Homo sapiens: one gene and its partner. The protein of the gene in region 1 purifies or fractionates together with the protein of each later gene. This does not show direct contact. Each region holds a gene or a part of one and is shown in the gene's direction. Other genes may lie near its edges. The genes, in order: C9orf85 and PRTFDC1.

Region 1 (3,822 bases):
TACAGACAATGAGTTATGTTTTACTGGGTGCTAGAAAGCTCAGATTTCATTTGTGGCCCATCTCTAACAAGTGCACTTTCCAGCTGCACTCCTGACTGCTTTGTAATTTCCCTCCTGCCCTTACTTTTCTCTCATTCTGATTCCCTCCTCTATTTTTTGGTTGTGTTTTGTAAGATACTTTATGTCCAACAATGTTCTAGCCATATTTAAAGGAATTTAAATAATGTAGTTTATGATTTGAAACTCACAGGCTAAAGCCAGGTGCTGTGGCTCACACCTGTAATCCAAGCACCTTGGGAGGCCAAGGTGGGCGGATCACTTGAGGTCAGGAGTTCGAGACCAGCCTAGCCAACATGGCAAAACCCTGTCTCTACTAAAAATACAAAAATTAGTTAGGCATGGTGGCGTGTGCCTGTAATCCTAGCTACTCAGGAGCCTGAGGTAGGAGAATCACTTGAACCTGGGAGACAGAGGTTGCAGTGAGCCAAGATCATGCCACTGCACTCCAGCCTGGGCAACAGAGTGAGACTCCGACTCAAAAAAAAAAAAAAAAGGAAGCAGCAGCCTAAAAGTCAGATTTTCACATTATTGTTATTAGTCACGTGAGTTCTTGCCCCCAAATCCAGGGATCTTTTATCCTCTAGCCAAATTTAGAATAAGGGACTCTTTCCAGCAAATTTCAAAGTACCTACTTTTAAATATGATTAAATAAGATATAAAAGTTTCTATTTCTGGAGTAACATTGTTACAGCAGTAGTGGCATAAAATACCTTATTTTAGGAGAAGAGTACTGCAGGGAAAAGAACAAAGCCAGTTTATGGAAATAGATTTTTAGCATTGGAATTGGCATTGGCATTTTTCTTTGAGAATTTCATTTTTTTAATTCTGTTTTTGTTTGTTTTTTGTTTTCAGTTAAGAGGAGTAAACAGGCCTTTGTTTTACCTTTGGCAATTCTGAAAGAATTATGTACAAAAAAAACCTAAGGAAAAATTATTTTAGTTGCTTTTGAATGGTATTCAAATTTCTTTTCAACTACCGTAGTATCTTCCTTCTGTTAAATGATACTTTATAAAATATTTTTCAGCATCAGCATGTTGATACAGATATAATATTTACAATTTGCTCTTGCTACCTTCTTGGGAGTTGAAGTCCTTTCTCGCCCAGCTTCTTTTTTTTGTTTTTTGTTTTTTTTTTGAGAAGGAGTTTCGCTCTTGTTGCCCAGGCTGGAGTGCAATGGCACGATCTCAGCTCACTGCAACCTCCAAATGCCAGGTTCAAAGGATTCTCCTGCCTCAGCCTCCAGCGTAGCTAGGATTACAGGCATGCGCCAGCACCCCGGCTAATTTTGTACTTTTAGTAGAGACGGGGTTTCTCCATGTTGGTCAGGCTGTTCTTGAACTCCCAATCTCAGGTGATCTGCCTGCCTCGGCCTCCCAAAGTGCTGGGATTACAGGTGTGAGCCACCGCACCCGGCCCTTTCTCACCCAACTTCTGTATGGCATTACTGTGTTAAAGATATATTGTTTGACAACAAATAGAATGCTTAAAGCAGCAATAACAACACTGACTCTAAAATATATGTTGTATAGGCCGGGTGCGGTGGCTCACGCCTATAATCCCAGCACTTTGGGAGGCCAAGGCAAGTGGATCACTTGAGGCCAGGAGTTCGAGACCAGCCTGGCCAAATGGCGAAACCCCATCTCTACTAAAAATACAAAAATTAGCTGGCATGCTGGTGCACGCCTGTAATCCCAGCTGCTCAGGAGGCCGAGACAGGAGGATTGCATGAACCCAGGAGGCAGAGGTTGCAGTGAGCTAAGATTGCCCCACTGCACACCAGTCTGGGCAACAGAGTGAGACTCTGTCTCAAAAAAAAAAAAAAGTTGTAGGAATGATGGCTAAGACATTTTTAAGACGTTATGTATATATTAAGTAGGCATGTTTTTTGATGTTCCTTAAGTTTATTCTAACTTTGAAAAGTATTCATTTGATAAGTAAGGGTTTCTTCTTTCACTGATTCCTAAGTTCAGTGGACTCTTCCACTGAAGATTTTTTTTTTCTTCACAAATCTGGAAAGTAGCTTGTTGAACGAACTAAATGACCTTTATAGGCTTTTGTATTTATAAAACTTTTGATTTTATATTTGGACAGACTTAAGTTTTAACCTTAATTACCTATGATCTTCTACCATGAGGGATACACTAAAAGTAATTGCCAAAATAGGGTTAATTGTAAATATAAATGTGAATAAGGTTAGATTGTCATTTCCTTCCCCCCAGGCAGAAGGATTCCTAGAACTAGGATTAACTTTCTTTGCTCACATCTCTGGAATTCACTTCTGTTTTGCCAAAGAATGGTAAAACAGGTATATACTTTTCTTTCTTCTGCACCTATTTTTAAGTGAAAAGTACTATTCTTTCTCATTCTTACTCTCATTAATTTCTTAACACATAAAAATCAAGTTTAATTTGATAGTAGTGCCTGTTAGTCATATGAACCCTGTACAACATATCTATTTATACTGCTTCACACATCACTCACAGGACAAGTTCCCACAAAGACCTGTTTTGTTCTACTGTTGATCCACCCTAAAGAAACCAGTTTCCAAACTCTGCACAGCTTTGTAAATCAAGATGAACTGGTCAGAAATTGGATACAGAAACAAACAAGGAACCAAAGAATGCTTCCTAGTTAACAAGCAGAATGTGTTATATACAATAAAATTGCAGGTAGTGAAATGTCTGTGTTCTAAGAATGTTCCAATTAGGAAGTTAATATCACATTCATATTGAAGTCATAGTTCAAAGTCATTCAGTTAAGGAAATATAAGTAATGCTTAGTAAGATGTTCTAGACGACAGAGAAGACAAATGATGAATGTGAACTTTGCTTCTGCATTTCTTAGCTAGCTTTGTCCATGATAACTATTAATAAGTACAAAGGTTGAGAGGACGAAGAGTTTGGTGTGTAGGCACAGATTTCCTTCTTTCTGGCAACAGTTAGGGGCCTAGAGTAAGCAGGGGATATAGTAGCATGCAGAACTGGGACTCTCCATCTATGTCCAGAAGGAAGGAATGCACCCATACACAATTTGTAAGTAACAGAATGTATTTCTCATCACAAAGTTAAACATAATATATTCACACTTCCTGATGGTGAAGATTCCTTGAAGAAAGAGAAAAATTAAATAAAATGAAATATATTCACAGCTTAATTTATGGTTTTTCACAATATTTCTAAAATATTTTCTCATTGAATAAATGTTTTATCAAATATTTTATCTTTTTGTTTAGAACTTTCAAGAATATCAAGCGCTGTTCAAAAATTGTTTCTTTCAGATGATCTGATGTAAACATTGTGCTTTTAACTTAATATCTAATAGCCTCCCAAAGAATCTGCATACTTGTGGTGCATTTCTTTCTCCCCTTGAGAAATTTTAAAAGAAAACAAAAGAAGCAAAGAAAATTTTAAATGTCTTCTGCTCATTATTCCAACAATAGGCAAAGACCAAGCTTTCACAGCCAAAGCAAACTAGAGAATTCTCAGAGTACTCAGTGAAAATATATAGTCTGTGTCCTGAATCAAATGAGTATGTTACAAAAATATAAAACTATTAGAGAAAATACATGACACATTTAAATTTTTCCTATCTTCCTTCTTTCCCAACACATTTTGAAAAGAAAATTACAATAAAAAACTTTTCCTTATAAAGCCCTTTCTCCACTACAGATATTTACATACAAATACATATTATTTAAGTTTGAAGAAACCAAGTTAGTAGGGGGAACTTTTCTAAAACTTTTTTAACATGAGAATTCAAAAG
Region 2 (3,822 bases), on another chromosome or scaffold:
AAATTCTACTTTTTTTTTTTTTTTTTTTGAGTCAGAGTTTCACTCTTATCACCCAGACTGGAGTGCAATAGCACAGTCTGGGCTTACTGCAACCTCCGCCTCCTGGGTTCAAGTGATTCTCCTGCCTCAGCTTCCTGAGTAGCTGGGATTACAGGCGCAGACCACCAAGCCCGGCTAATTTTTGTATTTTTAGTAGAGATTGGGTTTCACCGTGTTGGCCAGGCTGATCTTGAACTCCTGACCTCAAGAGATCTGCCCACCTCACTGTGTGACTTCTGATGTCTGTGAGGTTTATTTTTCTCTTGTTTTTATTTTTAAGCCTCACTTACTAGGGATCACCCTGTGTTTGAATAGCTTAGTGTTTGGCCTACAATTGGTTAGAAGTTGTGCTCAAATACGTCAAGCCAGTAAGTCTTCCACTCTCTGCTGATGGGGGTGTGTGGGGACTTGAAAGTAGATTCAAATTTCCAACCATTTTCAAATCTTTCGATGTTTACTTTCCCCTGAGCTTTCTTGTGCCTTCTCTGCACATGTACACAGCCTTCACTGTCCAGGGATGTGTGGGTGGCTTGAACTCACTCTGCTGTGCATATGTACAGCCTCTGGTCAATTGAGATGCATGAAGAACTTATTGTGTGCCCCTGTTCTATGACTGTCTAACCTCCTCCCTGGAACTTCCTATCAAATCCCCAGCCAGCCTGCCAGTGCACTGCTCAGCGGTGACTGCACCTCAGGATAGTGGAGCCCTGCCACCAAGGTGACCATTTTAGCTTACAGTGTTCCCTATCAGGTGAGCTCCCTCTGGCAGTGCACCACCTTGGTGGAACTGCCTGTTTGAACAACAGAGCTGGGGATAGGGGCTGGGGGGTAATAAGAGCATCCCCACACAAGAATGCCCCAGACTCATGCTGTTTCCACCCAGTGTTCAGGGTTTTCAGAATTAAATGCTTCTCAGTTTGTTGTATGCCTTTGGTTGATTTCCAACATGATGAGATGGTTGTTTTTGGCAGTTTTGCCCAGTTTTATAGTTGCTTTTCTGGAGAGGATGTGTTCACCTCCTTACTTCATCATGTTGGAAACAAATGTTCTTTTTTTTTTTTTGAGAAGGAGCCTTGCTCTGTCGCGCAGGCTGGAGTAGTACAGTGGTGCAATCTCAGATCATTGCAACCTCTGCCTCCTTGGTTCAAGGGATTCTCCTGCCTCAGCTTCCCGAGTAGCTGGGATTACAGGCACCCGCCACCATGCCCGGCTAATTTTTGTATTTTTAGTAGAGACGGGGTTTCACCACGTTGGCCAGGCTGGTCTCAAACTCCTGACCTTAAGTGATCTGCCCATCTTGGATTTCTTAAAGTGCTGGGATTACAGGTGTGAGACACCACTCTTGGCCCAAATGTTCCTTTTTAAGGAGCATGCCAGATATTCTGATGTACATTTTTTATGATCGTGTGTCTTCTTTAGAATTCAGTAAATACTGCCAGGCATGGTGGCTCATGCCTGTAATCCCAGCACTTTGGGAAGCCAAGGTGGCCAGGTCACCTGAAGTCAGGAGTTCGAGACCAGCCTGGCCAACATGGCAAAACCTCGTCTCTACTAAAAATACAAAAATTAGCTGAGCATAGTGGCAGGCGCCTGTATTCCCAGCTACTTGGGAGGCTGAGGCAGGAGAATCACTTGAACCCAGGAGGTGGAGGTTGCAGTGAGCCAAGATCGTGCCACTGCACTGCAGCCTGGGCAACAGAGTGAGACTCCATCTTAAAAAAAAAAAAAAAAAAAAGCAGTATGTTTTGAACACCTTATGTTCAACCTTAACAAAGCTTTTCTATCGGTGGGTTTCTGTTTCCCAAGGTTTTCCCCACATTCCTCTGAGTAATCGAATACGTACAATACATCTTGCATTTCATTAAAGCAACATAAATACTCAGAAGTAGTTGTGCCTTAATATATCTTTTATCCTTCTTTCAGAATTGAGCGGCTGGCCAAGGATATTATGAAAGACATAGGATATAGTGACATCATGGTCCTGTGTGTGCTTAAAGGAGGTTACAAATTCTGTGCTGATCTCGTAGAACACCTTAAGAACATCAGCCGAAATTCAGATCGATTTGTCTCAATGAAGGTTGATTTCATCAGACTAAAAAGTTACAGGGTAAGTTATTACAAGTTCCGCTTTATGACATTTCATTTAACAATGCTTTAGGATAAAAGAATCAATAATGTTATGAAAATGAAGAGTGCAATTTTTAAAAATGGAGATGAAAATGAAGGGTAATTTTAATTTGCAAGAATACGGCAACCTAACATAAGAATTCAAATGATACTATTTAGGGCGTGGGGTGGGGACCTTCTCTCTATTTTCACATATATGGGAAGACTCAGCAGTAATGATTTGTGCTTTCTTTTATGGTGATAAAGTGAGTGGTTATATCCTGGTGCCCAGCCCCACAACTGTGTGTGGTCAGAGTGTGAACACTGATTTGTTTTTTCTACTCTGGATGTCACTATGGGTCCTGGGGACCTATGGGAGGGTGTCCAGCCCAGAGAGGAGTCTTAGTACTTGGGTGGCTGCAGTTGTGGCCTGGAAGTAAAGAAGGGAAGGCTATAGGGACAGCACATTGCCAAGTGTGAGGAAACAAGGCCAGGGAGCTCCAGCAGAAGGCCCCTCCACCAGTTTACTCCATTAATTCTGTCTTTCTGTGGGCACCACTGGGCAGAATTAATGGAATTATTCTCCAAAGATGTTTCCTAACCAGATGCAGTGGCTCATGCATATAATCCCAACACTTTGGGAGGCCAAGACAGAAGGATCCCCTGAAGCCAGGAGTTCGAGACCAGCCTGGGCAACATAGTGAGTCCCTGTCTATATACAAAAAGAAAATTTTTAAAATTAGCTGAGTGTGGTGGCATGTGCCTATGGTCCCAGGTACTCAAGAGGCTGAAGTGGGAGGATTGTTTGAGCCCAGGAGACAGAGGCTGCAGTGAGCTGTATGGCACCACTGCACTCCAGCCTGGATGACAATGAAACTCTTGCCAAAAAAAAAAAGCTGTTGTTTCCTTAGTCTCCCTCCTCCTCCCTCTATGATGTTAACTTCTTTGATGCTTTTTGATTTAATGCATAGTAAAACATTAAAAATAACTTACTATTGGGTGAGGAGCTCTTGGAGTCAAACCATGAAAATATTCTCGTTGACTAAACTAACTTGACACATTTTAATTCATGAATCACTCTTTGAATTGGCCTTCTATTGCTGTGTGGCAAACTCACCACAAACGTAGTGGCTTAAACCAACATACACGTGTATTATCTTAAAGTTTCTGTAGGTCAGAAATCTGAGCATGGTGTAGCTGAGTTTTCAGCTCAGAACCTTACAGGGATGAAATCAGTGTGTTAGTTGGGATTTTGATATCATCTGAGGTTTTCAAGATCACTGACTGTTGGCAAGCTCAGTTCCCATTTCCTTGTTGACTGTAGGCTGGAGTTGGTAGACTCTCCACTCCTAGGGGTTGTCCCCAGGTGTTTGCATCAATTACCCCACAGGTCGTTCACAACACCATTAGCTGTTTGCTTCTTCAAGTCTGACGGAATAATCTTAGCCCTTCTTTTATAGCTCACCTGATTAGATCATGTTCACCCAGGTAACCTGCCTTTTGATGAACTCAAAGTCATCTGACTAGTCACCTAATCTTTGGTGCGAATTCCCACCACGTTTACAAGTCTTACCCACACTCAAGTGGAGAGGATTATGCAGGGTGTGTACACCAGGGGACAGCGGTCTTCAGGGCCACCAATCTGTCTTCCACATTCCTCATGTGACTCTCAGTTGC

The links.
Region 2: the proteins of C9orf85 (region 1) and PRTFDC1 purify together in Homo sapiens (affinity purification with mass spectrometry; one large-scale study listed by BioGRID and IntAct). This does not show direct contact.

Annotation. Positions count from the first base shown.
Region 1 is NC_000009.12:71,942,366-71,946,187, forward strand, and holds part of C9orf85 (uncharacterized protein C9orf85), read left to right. Parts: intron 1-3,822.
Region 2 is NC_000010.11:24,935,508-24,939,329, reverse strand, and holds part of PRTFDC1 (phosphoribosyltransferase domain-containing protein 1), read left to right. Parts: intron 1-1,962; coding exon 1,963-2,146; intron 2,147-3,822. UniProt on the Homo sapiens protein: Has low, barely detectable phosphoribosyltransferase activity (in vitro). Binds GMP, IMP and alpha-D-5-phosphoribosyl 1-pyrophosphate (PRPP). Is not expected to contribute to purine metabolism or GMP salvage.